Regions from separate parts of the Homo sapiens genome. Here regions 1, 3 and 4 are each reported to be linked to region 2. Evidence: microRNA targets listed by miRTarBase, many of them from high-throughput screens and not tested one by one. Region 2 holds a microRNA gene; each other region holds the end of a gene's coding sequence.
The links. The annotated mature microRNA hsa-miR-4650-3p reads AGGUAGAAUGAGGCCUGACAU and lies in region 2 at 2,213-2,233, opposite strand. An mRNA with a match to its seed (bases 2 to 7 or 8) in the 3' UTR can be bound and repressed. Matches are read on the target gene's strand: a 7mer-m8 pairs with bases 2 to 8, a 7mer-A1 pairs with bases 2 to 7 and ends in A, and an 8mer does both.

Region 1: miRTarBase lists CSRP2 as a target of hsa-miR-4650-3p. Seed matches in the 3' UTR shown: 8mer at 696-703.
Region 3: miRTarBase lists HAND1 as a target of hsa-miR-4650-3p. Seed matches in the 3' UTR shown: 7mer-m8 at 961-967.
Region 4: miRTarBase lists MFSD8 as a target of hsa-miR-4650-3p. Seed matches in the 3' UTR shown: 7mer-m8 at 1,502-1,508.

The regions. Positions count from the first base shown.
Region 1 is chr12:76,856,370-76,859,559 of GRCh38, reverse strand. CSRP2 (cysteine and glycine rich protein 2) reads left to right here. Exons shown (of 6, transcript NM_001321.3): 5 at 1-13; 6 at 532-851. The coding sequence ends at 608. Among named protein-coding and RNA genes, the nearest start is that of CSRP2, 21 kb to the left of the region's middle.
Region 2 is chr7:67,112,120-67,115,119 of GRCh38, forward strand. It overlaps MIR4650-1 (microRNA 4650-1), which reads right to left and starts at 2,278; the gene lies at 2,203-2,278. The region is part of intron 12 of TYW1 (tRNA-yW synthesizing protein 1 homolog); the gene reads left to right. The region is part of intron 1 of LOC124901664 (a long non-coding RNA gene); the gene reads right to left.
Region 3 is chr5:154,472,872-154,476,024 of GRCh38, reverse strand. HAND1 (heart and neural crest derivatives expressed 1) reads left to right here. Exons shown (of 2, transcript NM_004821.3): 2 at 115-1,053. The coding sequence ends at 219. Among named protein-coding and RNA genes, the nearest start is that of HAND1, 3.8 kb to the left of the region's middle. RefSeq lists a silencer at 133-320 and enhancers at 1,649-2,620, 2,621-3,153.
Region 4 is chr4:127,918,009-127,921,198 of GRCh38, forward strand. It overlaps MFSD8 (major facilitator superfamily domain containing 8), which reads right to left. Exons shown (of 12, transcript NM_001371596.2): 12 at 1-2,828. The coding sequence ends at 2,622. Among named protein-coding and RNA genes, the nearest start is that of PLK4, 39 kb to the left of the region's middle.

The DNA of each region.
Region 1 (3,190 bases), not on the chromosome of region 2:
ATCTATTGTAAAGGTAAAATTCATTTCAGTTACTGCTGTCCATATGAATATTCCACACTGGTTCTTGTTTAATGAAATGTCACTGGCATTAAAAAAAAAAAAAGAAAAGTATGCCACTATTTTCTGAAAATAAAATATCCCAAGATGCTTATAGATGACAGAGAACCACAGTTAAGTTCCTGATCATTTAAAACTCCCCACCAGATAAAAACACCACAAATAGCCATCTTTTGCCTTCATGTCTTGAGCAAAGCGTAAGTATATGGAAGAAAACAGACAAATACATACCTTACCTGGCCTGACTCATGCTTGCAACTCAGCAGGACCACGCTGAACACTATAGGGCCAGAATGTGTGGACTTGTCTTTGCAGCTTTAAGATATTTAGTACATGACACATTTAACATCTTAAATAAGTTGAGCTCTTTTACACAGCAGTTTAATTTATGGGGGTTTGTTGAGTGGGTCTTAAGCAGTGCTAGCAAAGCTTAATGGACTTGCACTAACTATCCTTCCTCCCTTTCCTTTGTAGGATGCTATGCAAAGAACTTTGGGCCCAAGGGATTTGGCTATGGCCAAGGAGCAGGGGCTCTTGTTCATGCCCAGTAAGATGTAAACCCTGAACTAAACATCACACACTGAGAATCTCTTCATAATCTAGGCACAGATAATCTTTAACACTAAACTACTGTGAAATTCTACCAGCATTAAGTACTGTATATCGCCCTGTACTTGGATAGGCTGGCTAACTCGTAGGAAGAGAGCACTGTATGGTATCCTTTTGCTTTATTCACCAGCATTTTGGGGGAACATTTCTTTTACATTTTAAATAAAACTTCAGCTTGATTTGGGTGTTCATTGTCTTTTAATTAATCTTTTGGAGGAGATGCTCTGATTTCAGTTAGTGGAAAGTCATTTGGTTCCCTACCTTTGTTACCCCATTACCCAGCTGACTCACTAGGTTCATGTTTGCATTACAGCTGTTGAAAAGGATCTCTCTTTCAAGCAGGCAAGTGTGCCTTAAGAGTAAAGGTTGCAGGCCGGGCGCGGTAGCTTACGCCTGTAATCCCAGCACTTTGGGAGGCCGAGATGGGCAGATCACGAGGTCAGGAGATCGAGACCATCCTGGCTAACACGGTGAAACACCGTCTCTACTAAAACTACAAAAAAATTAGCCAGGCGTAGTGGCGGGCGTCTGTAGTCCCAGCTACTCGGGAGGCTGAGGCAGGAGAATGGCGTGAACCCGGGAGGTGGAGCTTGCAGTGAGCCGAGATCGTGCCATTGCACTCCAGCCTGGGCAACAGAGCGAGACTCCGTCTCAAAAAAAAAAAAAAAAAAAAAAAAAAAAGGTTGCTAGGCAACAGGCATCATTATTTCAGCTCCTCAAAGCTGGTGTTCAGCAGTGCAGCATCTCCTCCTTTCCCTCCCCACCGTACTCTTAAGTAAGTTCTTTTGATTATACCTAAAATTCAGTACAAACAAACACCTATGGGCAATTATAGAATCAGAGACTTAGTATGATTCTTTTTAAAGACTCTACACTGTGATCTAATAGATGGTGACCTACTAAGTCCTGGAAACTGGGGTGTTTCACACATTTTGATTCTGTATAAGTAGCAAAGAATGTTGCATTGTCTGGGCACATTCAGCTGGCTTAGGTAGAAGAGGAGCATTAGACTTTATAAGGTATGGTTTCATTATTCCCCCAGAAAGTTTAGTTCTTTACTAGAGATTCAATCCAACTCCCTCACCCCCAGGAGCAGGGTGTAATAGGTCTGTAATGTGTATTATTAGTAAAATTGAACCAGCCCGTGAACATATCTTAATCTTTTCCAAGGTTCATTTTAACATACTATACTGTGTGAGTCTCGCTCTCTTGCCCAGGTTGGAGTGCAATGGTGCGATCTCAGCTCACTGCAACCTCCACTTCCTGGGTTCCTGCGATTCTTGTGCTTCAGTCTCCTGAGCAGCAGGAACTACAGGCATGCTACTGCACCCAGCTAATTTTTTATTTTATTTTTTTTAGTAGAGATGGGGTTTCACCATGTTGTCCAGGCTGGTCTTGAACTCTTGGCCTCAAGTGACTCAACCACCTCGGCCTCCCAAAGTGCTGGGATTACAGGCATGCACTACCACGCCTGGCCAATATATTGCTTATTTTGAAAAAGCTAAAGGGGATATGGTATGTACGACATCAAAAAAAATAAATAAGCAGAAACAAAGTGGGAGGAAGTTGGTGGAGGGTGTACTGGGTGCTTATTTCACATCATAGCCTTGAGCAACTTCAGGTGTTTTATGAGGCATACCAGTTCCATCATGGTGGGGCAGGAGAGGTAGTTAAGCAGTCTAGGAAATAATTGGCAATCAAAGAGGCTGAAGGAGAGAAGTTATGGAATAACTTCTGATTCTGTATGTGGTAGAACATGTCCACAAATTCTTTGACCTTCCCATCAAATGATAGTCTAATTCCCCTCTCTTTGAATAAAGGCCCACCTTAGTGACTCATTCTTAGTATTTATTATTTTGGATAAGGCTAGGTTAGAAAAGACAATACAGCTTTTGCCCACCTCTTCCTCTTAGGATGCTTACTCTTGGAATTCAGCCACCATGTTCTGAGGAAGCCCTGACTACATGAGGAAACCACATGTAGGCATTATAGCTAAGGCCTCAGCTGAGAGCTCATTCAACAGCCAGTATCAACCATCAGGCATGTGAGTGAGGCAGCCTTCAGATTATTCTAGTCTCTGGTCTTTGAGCCATCCCAGCTGATCCCAGGTGGAGCAAAGTGAGCTATTCCTGTTACGCCCTGACCAAATTGCAGATCTACGAACAAAAATGTTTTAGACCACCAAAGTTTGGGGTAGTTTGTTAGCATTCCTACCATGTTTCCCAAACTCTACTGGAGTTGCTAGTAGATATTCAAGAGGAAAAACAATGTAAATGAAGTTTCCAGGTGACTGGTAATTTGAGATTTCTGTCTGGTAAAATAAAACAAGATATCCATTCATACTTTAAATCATTCTTGATTGAGAGCCATGGCAAAATAGCTACTCCAACACTGTGAGATTAGTTTCCAGAGGTTCCAGGAGTAGAAAAAGGAAATTGGCTTTGGGCCAGACTTGGGAGGAATCACTTGGTCATTTGGATGTAAGTCAGTAACCCCAAAGTAATCCGAATGCAGTATTAAAGTG
Region 2 (3,000 bases):
AAAAGAAAGTGCAAAAGCTCTTTATGTATTGATATGGAATGATTTCTACAAGTTCACAATCTTTTACCCCTTGTGCCCAAAAGTGTTTCAGAATTTTAGAAAGACAATACAGTTTATCCACTGTATTTTATGGTATATCTCCAGCACCCTAGAGCCACACACATGTAATTAGTTCTACAATAAAGTATGCTTAGTCACAGAAATGGAAAAATTAGGCCAGGCACAGTGGCTCATGCCTGTAATCCCAGTACTTTCGGAGGCCGAGGCAGGCAGATCACCTGAGGCCAGGAATTTAAGACCAGCCTGGCCAACATGGCAAAACCCCATCTCCACTAAAAATACAAAAATTAGGCAGGTGTGGTGGTGCGTGCCTGTAGAACCAGCTACTTGGGAGGCTGAGGTAGGAGAGTTGCTTGAACCCGGGAGGTGGAGGTTGTGGTGAGCCAAGATCATGCCCCTGCACTCCAGCCTGGGTGACAGAGCAAGACTCTTGTCTTTAAAAAAAAAAAAAAGAAAACAAAAGAAAAATTAAGAATACAAACAGCTTTGTAAGTCAGATTCTACTTCGAGGTAAGTATGTCTCCCAACTTAGAAAAGCAACCTTTTTGTTATTAGAGCTTTTTGGATTTTTAAATTGTGGTTAAGAGGTTGTTGGATTGGTGATAAGTGGGAGGCACAGGGGAGCCAGATGCAGAACGGTGCGCTGTGCTGGCTTTTTAATCCATCCATCACACTGGAGCCACGTGACTTTCATCAGCACTGATCTGACTGTGTCACTGGCTACATAAAACTTCAGTAAGCCAAACCTAACCCTGGCAGGACATGAGACCTGGCTGCAGGCATCCCCGAATTCCATTTGCCATGTTAGAACCATGGGGGATAGTTTGTGATTCCTTTATCCTGCTGCATCTCACAGCTGCAGGCCTTTGCATTTCTTCTTTGGACATCCGTGGAAATGATCTCATTCTCTTCCTGATGAACTCTGTGTCCTTCAGAGATCAGCTTTGACTTTGACCTTGTTACGTCTTTTGTATGATTTTGCCAAGCAAAATCAACTCACTCCTCCATTTATACCCATTACATTTTCCCCACCTTAGTCATGGCGCTGCGTGGTGGGACTCTCATCCATCTTCTGTTCCCTCCAGAATGTAAATATTAAGGGCTGAGCCTCTTGGCCTCAGTGTGCAGTTCATAGTAATCCCTGAATAAATGTTGAATGAAGTGCATAAGCCCCTGAAAAGAATTAAGTTCAGAATTTCTTCCTGAGGACTTGTTGTTTTGGCTTCTCTTAGGACTTTGCAGTCAGAATCTGCATTTCACAGATCATCCGTATTCTCTTGGATTTTTCATTTATGGAATACCGTTTGTTACATGTAACCGCTGTGACTTGAACACTGAGCCACACTGTGGATTTTGCCATCATGGTGCAGAGTTAGGAGAAAGGCTCTGGAGTCATCTCTGGACTTGAATCTCCTTGACGCTTACTGTTTTTCTTTTCTTTCTTTCTTTCTTTTTCTTTTTCTTTCTTTTTTTTTTTGATGTGGAGTCTTGCTCTGTTGCCCAGGCTGGAGTACAGTGGCGCAATCTTGGCTCATGCAGCCTCCGCCTCCTGGGTTTAAGTGATTTTTGTGCCTCAGCCTCCTGAGTAGCTGGGATTACAGGCGTGCGCCACCATGCCTGGCTAATTTTTGTATTTTTTAGTAGAGATGGGGTTTCACCATGTTGGCCAGGCTGGTCTCAAACTCCTGTCCTCAGGTGATCCTCCTGTCTCAGCCTCCCAAAGTGTTGGGATTACAGGCATGAGCCACTGTGCCCGGCATGATGCTTATTCTTTATAGATCCTTGCACACGTTACTTAACCTTTTGAACCTCAGCTTCATCGTCTCTAAAATGGGCATAAGTAGCAACTGCGTGGTCGTTTTATTGTGAGGATTCAGTGAACTGATCAAGAAGGGTAAAGCACACAGCAGAGTGTGCCAGCTCGCTGAGTGGTAAATAATTCTCTCCTTCTCTTTCACCCTCCTCCCCTCTTCCTCCTGAGCTATTTGGCTTGATCTGACAGCCTCAGATTGTCTTAGAGATTTAGGTTTTAATATCATTGCTTGTTTGGGTCACTCTGCTTATTTTTTTTATCCCAAGGAGGAGCTTCAAAGTCACTGTTTACTTGAATTTCTTACAAACATAAATCTCTCTCCTTTTTTTTCCTGCAGATATGTCAGGCCTCATTCTACCTTCTGAGCCTTGGAAGGTAGAAAGAGGCCTGATAATCTCTACAGAAAGGCAACATGGGAGAGGGATTTTTATGTTCATCAGCACATTTTTATATATGATAATTCTTCACTCAGAGATTTAAAATTAAGATGAAGGGTCCTTACAGTACTCAGATCAAGAATCCTGGGGCATTTGTACAGAGGATTGGGCTTAAGGTTGTCTATCTTAAATATTGTCTGTTTTTGGGAGAGCAGAGGATATCCTTTTTAATTACTCCCAGCAGTGCTGTTGAGATTCTCAGATACAGGAATTATTATGATGATTTTGATGATGTAAGACTCTTTTGCTTTTTGGGAACATTTGTTATCTCTGTATAGAATAGAGACAGATAACTGACTCTACTGGGAGCCTCATTATCTCTTCTGGGTGAATAGAGACCAGTGTGAGGCAGAAATAAGATCCCTAAAGCTCAGAAAATATCTCCAAAAGTCTCTTTGCTAATTTTGAGCCCCTTAGAAATGAGCTCTGTAATTCCTGGGGACCTTTTCCTCTTCTCCATTCTTCCTCTGCTCCTTGACAAGAGATCTGTAGACTTCCTTGAGTGCAGCATCTCAGACATCTGGTATTGACTAGAATTCCTTATTGGACTTCCTTGAGTGTAGCATCTCAGACATCTAGTATTGGCTAGAATTCCTTATTGGTAGTGTCAGTGTCCAGGGCTTCCTATTTTGTAAATGATAGAGGTTTGTAAAAGGAGTATGGCCTTTGGAATGTGCTGTTCATAATCTT
Region 3 (3,153 bases), not on the chromosome of region 2:
TTACTGCTCCCGACACCTTCCCCTCCTCCTCATCTTACCCCATGCCGGGCGATCGGAGCAGAAAAATTAAAACCTGTCTCTCCCGCCTCTTTTCTTCTGTGTGTCCTTTGGCAGCAGCAGCACGAAGGTTTTCCTCCTGCCCTGGGCCCAGTCGAGAAGAGGATTAAAGGACGCACCGGCTGGCCGCAGCAAGTCTGGGCGCTGGAGTTAAACCAGTGAGCCGAGGCCCGCGCCGAGGACCTGGCCAGGCCAGCCACTCCTGAAGCCCCGGGAGGAGAGGAAGGCAGCGGCGAACGCCAGGCTCTGGGCTCCGGCGACTGGTGCTACGCATCCCGCGGAGCTTCTGCTGAGCGCCGGCAGGTCGTCGGCTGCAACCACACACTTGGATCGCACGTGCAATGTCCTTTGATTTTTTTTAATACATTAAGAGAAAGAGAAATATATATATATCCACCCCCAGCCCAACCGAGGGCGGCCCTTGGCGGCAACATGCAAGAAGGAGGGACTGTCGAACCCAAGGGCTCAAAGACGCACTCTTCCACCCTTTTGGAGCGAATTTAGAACCTCAGCCCTATCTCCATTTCCCTATCTGGCTCTTTCTCTCTTGTCCCTCCATATGATCCGCCCCGACGCCGTCTTCTCTAATTAAAATGCAATAAGGAATCAATTCTTTTCTGCCTGAGAAAGAGAACCAGACGCAGGAAGATGAAAGGCTGCCCTTTGTTCTTCGAATCGTGGTGGTTTTATTTTATTTTTCTTTTTGTCGCTGCACTTCCTGTTTAGTTCCAAGGGAAACACTTTCTCTCTTTCTCTGTCTCTCTCTTTTCTTCCTTCTTTTCCTTCCTTTTTGTTTCTATCTAAATAAAAGCTTTCCCTGTGTTGGAAAGTTTTTATGTATTTAAACTACCTACCATGCCTGTTGTGCTCAGGTGTTTGTTCATCCTGCCATCCCCAACCCTTTTCTACCTCAAGTCTGTGTGACCACTCACAGCCCCCCTCCCTTCGCCAAAGCAGTGTCTATGCTCTTGATTAATAAAACATTTTCTGAAATCATCTGAAGCCTGTGTCATGTCTCAACCGGGGTCCCTCACCGACTCCCATGGCTTCTGCTAGGTGGAAAGCCTCTGTTCCTGCTCCTCTTCTTTTGATAAACACGAAACCAAACTTGAAATCAAGGGAAGCCGGCAGATAAAGAATGTATTTCAAGAACAAGAGCAAAGTTCTCTTTAGACTAGAACGGGAGGTGGGGGTAACTTATGGGAACGGGGAAGAACAAAAACGGAAACGAATTAGTCTCAGAGGGCCTGGGCTCGGGTTTTTGTGCGTTGAGTATTCGTGCTTGTCTGGAGGTTAGTATGCCCACTGGTGTCTGCAAAGAGTGGTTTGGAGTGTTTATTGGGAGGGAAGGGGGCCTAGCACACAGGTGAATCCTATCCCTGGGGCAGGGTAGCTCAGGAGAGGGGGTGTTGGTGGGGAATATGTTCATGTATGTGAAATTCTCAACATATAGATGTACATGTGACAGTGCAGCAACTCATACGGAGCCTGAGGCTGTGCAGGGGCCAACAAGGGTCTGCTTAGTACAGCTCCAAGCACACAGTAAGGACTTGACAAGTCACAGCAGCTATTATTATTTTATACCTGAGTAAAATAAGCTTGTGAGTGCTTATATGTTAAATTGAGGTATTTAGGTTTCTCTTTAGCAACGAAGCACTCGACAGAAGGTTGTGAGAGCATATGGATTTGTGCAAAGGGATGGGGTGTATGTGTGTATGCGTGCTCATTCGGGCACTTGTGCAGGAGAGCCAGTCTTTGTGTTCTCTCATGCGCACCCATGACTAGGTGTGGTGGGTATAAATTCGGTGCATTTGCCAAGGATCTTGGATGCGTATTGGGCTAAACTGGGGCGGGCAAACGCAGTGGTTTATACTTCCAGGAATAATAATGTACGAATACTTTGGTTGCGTGCAACTGTGTGCTAGGCACTGCGCTAAGCACTTCTGTGTCTCCCAACAGCTCCCATGGTTGCCCCACGGAGCGCACGCTCTGCAGCGCCTGAGGGTCTGCGGCGCTCACTGCGAAGGAGGAGGGGAGACCCGTGAGGCTGTCTTGGAACTTTCGCTCTGCGCACCTGGAGCCTGAGCGCTCGGCTTGGGAACAAGAAAGGAGACCTCAGGCAGCTCCGGGGCAGGGCCTCGTGGGGCACCAGGCGTGCCCCAGGCGCCTTGTCCCAGCGTCGGGGTGAATATGGGACCCCATTAGTCTTGGCTGTAAACACCGTAGCAGGGGCCGAGAGGCCACGCGGGCCTTTCCGGACGCGAAGGAGTTAATAAAAGGTGTTTTATGGGCGCTAGGAAACAGTGGGGGAGGTGTGAGCTTCTCTCTCTACTCTCGCCCCCCTACTTTTTTCTTTTTTCCCTCTCGCCACCCGCCGCCAGATCAAACAGGCCCGCGATTTAACTAGGGCAACACTTGGCGGTAATGAGCCTGTCCGACGCACCCCTTCCTCGGCCTCAGTACCCGGCCCGAGGCCCCAGGGCCCTTGGGGAGGAGCAGAGAGAAAAATCAAAGTTTCTTTCTTGTTGTTTTGTTTTTCTTTTCTTTACCTTCTTTCTTTCCGTTTCTTTCTGGGAGTCCGTTTAGAAATTCCGGCGCGCATGGAGAAACAGACTCAGGGAGGGAGGTGATCTAAGCCCCACAGCACGGAGGGAAGCTTATCTAGATTCGAACCCAGGACTCCAACTTCGCTCACACACAAACCTCTGGCTATACACAGGTCCCAGCTCCCAGGACTATTTTTAGCACCGTGAAGTATCCTAGGCACGGGAAGAATGCGCACCCTGGTCTAGCTTTCTTATAGCCGGGGAAAGAAGAGGGGGTGCTGAGGGAGACCCGCCAGCGGCCGCCAAAGCCAAGTCTGGCATAACCAGGCCTCTTCAGAAAACCCAATCCTGCTGGCCCCAAACCCTCTTTGGGAAGAGAGCCTTGGAGCCCTAAACTCGGTCTCAGAAACGTGCAGTCCCTGAACCCGGGAGCCGAGACGGAGCCGGCGCCCATTGAGAGGGTCACTGGATAGTCCCCCACTCTCCCCACGCCTGACTCCAGCGGCCTCCCACGCCCACGCCACATCCCCAGCTCCCACCGCACAGCTGG
Region 4 (3,190 bases), not on the chromosome of region 2:
TAAGGTTTATATGAACAAGAAGAGTTTATTTTTAAATGTAAAGCTGAACAAGATAGAATGGAGATGCTTTGTGAAGTTATAAATCCCTTCAAAATATGAAAATCATCCTTTCAAGTTTAAATTTGTTTTCAAAAACATATTTTCTCTTCTTAAATATGTACTACTCTTAACAATATATCATACCTTAAAATCTCCTGTTGTCATTTTCTCTTTATACGCAACTTGGCCTACTCAAGAAGACATCAACATGGTGATTTTTTTTCCTCAAACTTTATCTCCTTGCTCTTTTCCCAATCCCATGTTACTTCCTTTCGCCTTCTTTTGTGCCAAGATGAGCAAGGTATAATCCTCCAAAGAAGAAAATGCTCCAAAGAAAATGCTCTCAATAAAAAGGAAAGTAAGAGTCATTTGTGTAAGGTTAAGTTTATCTAAATTTTAATCAATATTATAAACCTTTGAAAGCTGGGAAACTTTTTTCTGTTATATTCTTGCTGGAAACAGGTTATTATGCTAAGACAAAAGCTCCAGTCAGTGGGCTTATGTTGCCCAAATATTTCTGCTAGTAGGACTCACTGGTATAGTTAAATTACCCTACAATTAGTGATTAATTGAAACTGCAACTTTCTGGGATATTTTCCTCACTATGAAAAATCAAGTGGTTAAGACTGTGGACTTTAAGGATAGACTGTTACTTAGACAAGTAACTTTTCTGTGCCTCCATTCTTTCATCTGTAAAACGGGAATCATAATAGTATTTTCACTCCATAAGACTGCTGTAAGAATTAAATTGTATGTTACACATTACCTGGAATGTGGAAAGCACTCCACAAATTTTGCTCTTATCATTTTCATCATTACCATTATTCTTGTTATTTTTGTCATGCACACTATGCAAACCAAGGGTAGAGTTTACTCTTTAAGATTAGACGTGGCCCAAAAAATGTAAGACAGAGAAAGCAGCTGCAGAATAGCAGGTAAGAGGGATCCCAGACTTGACCAAATAGCCAGAACTGGCTACGGTTCTGAGAAATCTATGGAAGCAGTCTTGCTATGGGCGGCAGAGGAGAGTGAAAACAGTCTTCAAAATTTAATCGTAGAATAATTCTATCAAATTAAGCCCTTTATTAGAGCTGAAAAAATTGAGTTTAAGAGCACAGCTAGTTTAGCATAAAGTGCAGATTATACAGTTTTAAATTTTTGTTTTTATTTTTTGTAAAGACAGGGTCTCACTTTGTTTCCCAGGCTGGTCTTGAATTCCTGGCCTCAAGCAATCCTCCTGCCTTGGCCTTCCAAAGTGCTGGGATTACAGGCATGAGACACTGCACCCAACCTATAAAGTGCAGATTATATAGTGTTTATTCTCAGATTTGAAACTATTTCTAACTTAAAGTAGAAAACATTTGGAAAAGTGTTTAGAAATATTTTTGCATTTTCTTAACAGTGCTTATCAATATACATAGTTATCTACTAGTTCCTTTTATCAGCATTCAACTTATGTAGAGGTAGAAGTTAAACATACAGTGTTATTTAGCCAACTTCAGGTAAACTCAGTAAATTGTTAGATTAAAGCCATTTTGCCTCAAATACTTATTAGCCTGACTAGTTTGGGGCTGTCAGGGATCATCCAAATTAAAAATCCAACTAAAATTCTGCAGCTCTACACAACTATGCAGACATAGATTGAAAACTGTTGTGTTCCTCCCCGCCACTACTGAGAGATGGGAAAAATTAAAGTAAATTAATTAATGTTTTACTAATTAAATGTTTTTCTCCAGTTTAAGGGGGTTGAAAAATAGCAATAATTTTAAGAAACCATTTACTGTTTTGTATATATATATATAAAATAACACATATCTGGATTATGTTTCTAATGTGAATTTTTGGCATTTGAAAGAAAGTAGGTATCCCTATTAGGCTAATAGGCAGTGAAGTATCTTGATCTCTTAATCCTCTGTATTGCTCAAATATTAGCATTATCCATACTCATTTATTAATGTAGGGGTTACTTAGTGAAACCCTGAACTAAAATAAGGCAGAGGTGTAGTATTAGAAGAAAGACTCATAGAAGGCAAGGTAGGATGTTAGGCACGCTAAATGGAAAATATGTGTTATAATTTTTATTTCATAAGTGAACTTGATAATAGAAAATGCATTTTTTTATAAATAAAAAGTAGGTGTCTGAATAAAAATACCTCTACTTGGGTAGAGGTATTTAAAATTCTATAATTTTGTTCTGCTATGGCTAATTCTTACAGAACCCTCTTTCTGGTTCCACTGTATATTATTTTAATGACACTTCTGCAGTGGGTATTAAGAATACAGCTTCACATTTATTCATCATTGTCCATTCACTCATTAGTTCATGCAACCACAAAAAGGTATTATAAGAATAATATTTCATTTCTGAGGTAAGGAAATTATCATCTAGTATGTTTTTATATAACCTACTATTCACAATGACATGTAGAATTCTCTCTGTTATTCAACATATGTTCTTGTTCTTCAAAATCTGCAATATCTGTAGTCTGATTCTTGGAGACTGGCTCACCGCAATTGTCTAGCAGAGCTTTAGACCAGGAAGTGCCACACAGCAAGTAGTTTCCATCACAGTCTTAGCTAGTTTATTCCTGAATCCTCCCATATCTTACAGAAAGAGCAATGAGTCTTTTGTAAACCACTCCCAGGAGGGTGATGGTGAGCACTATTATTCCACACACCAGGCTGAATGCCCATCGTGGTCCCCAGTGAGCATACACTTGGCTGATGAACATAGGCCCAAGAATCCGGGCTCCACTTCCAGATGCTGTTAACCAGCCCATGTATACACCCTGTTGGGGGTGAAATGGAGGACAAGCAGATTGATATTGGGGTTTAGTTATTTAAAAGCAAAGAAATGGTATTACCAAACTACAGCAAACTTACAAGAATCATTTCTGCATCTTTTACTTTTAAATTAAACATAAAATGCCTCCTATAAATATAGCATTTAATATTAAGTCAGATTAAAAAAAATAAAAGGAGTGTAAAGGGAAAAACTTACTGTCTGCTGAAGCCCTGGGAATAATAAAATTGATTAAAATACCTTTTAAAGCTAACATTTATTTTGTACCTGCTACATGCCAGTCACTGAGGTAGGTGCTTTAAATACATCATTTGTAATGTTCACAAGTTTCGATGACAGGTGTTATGC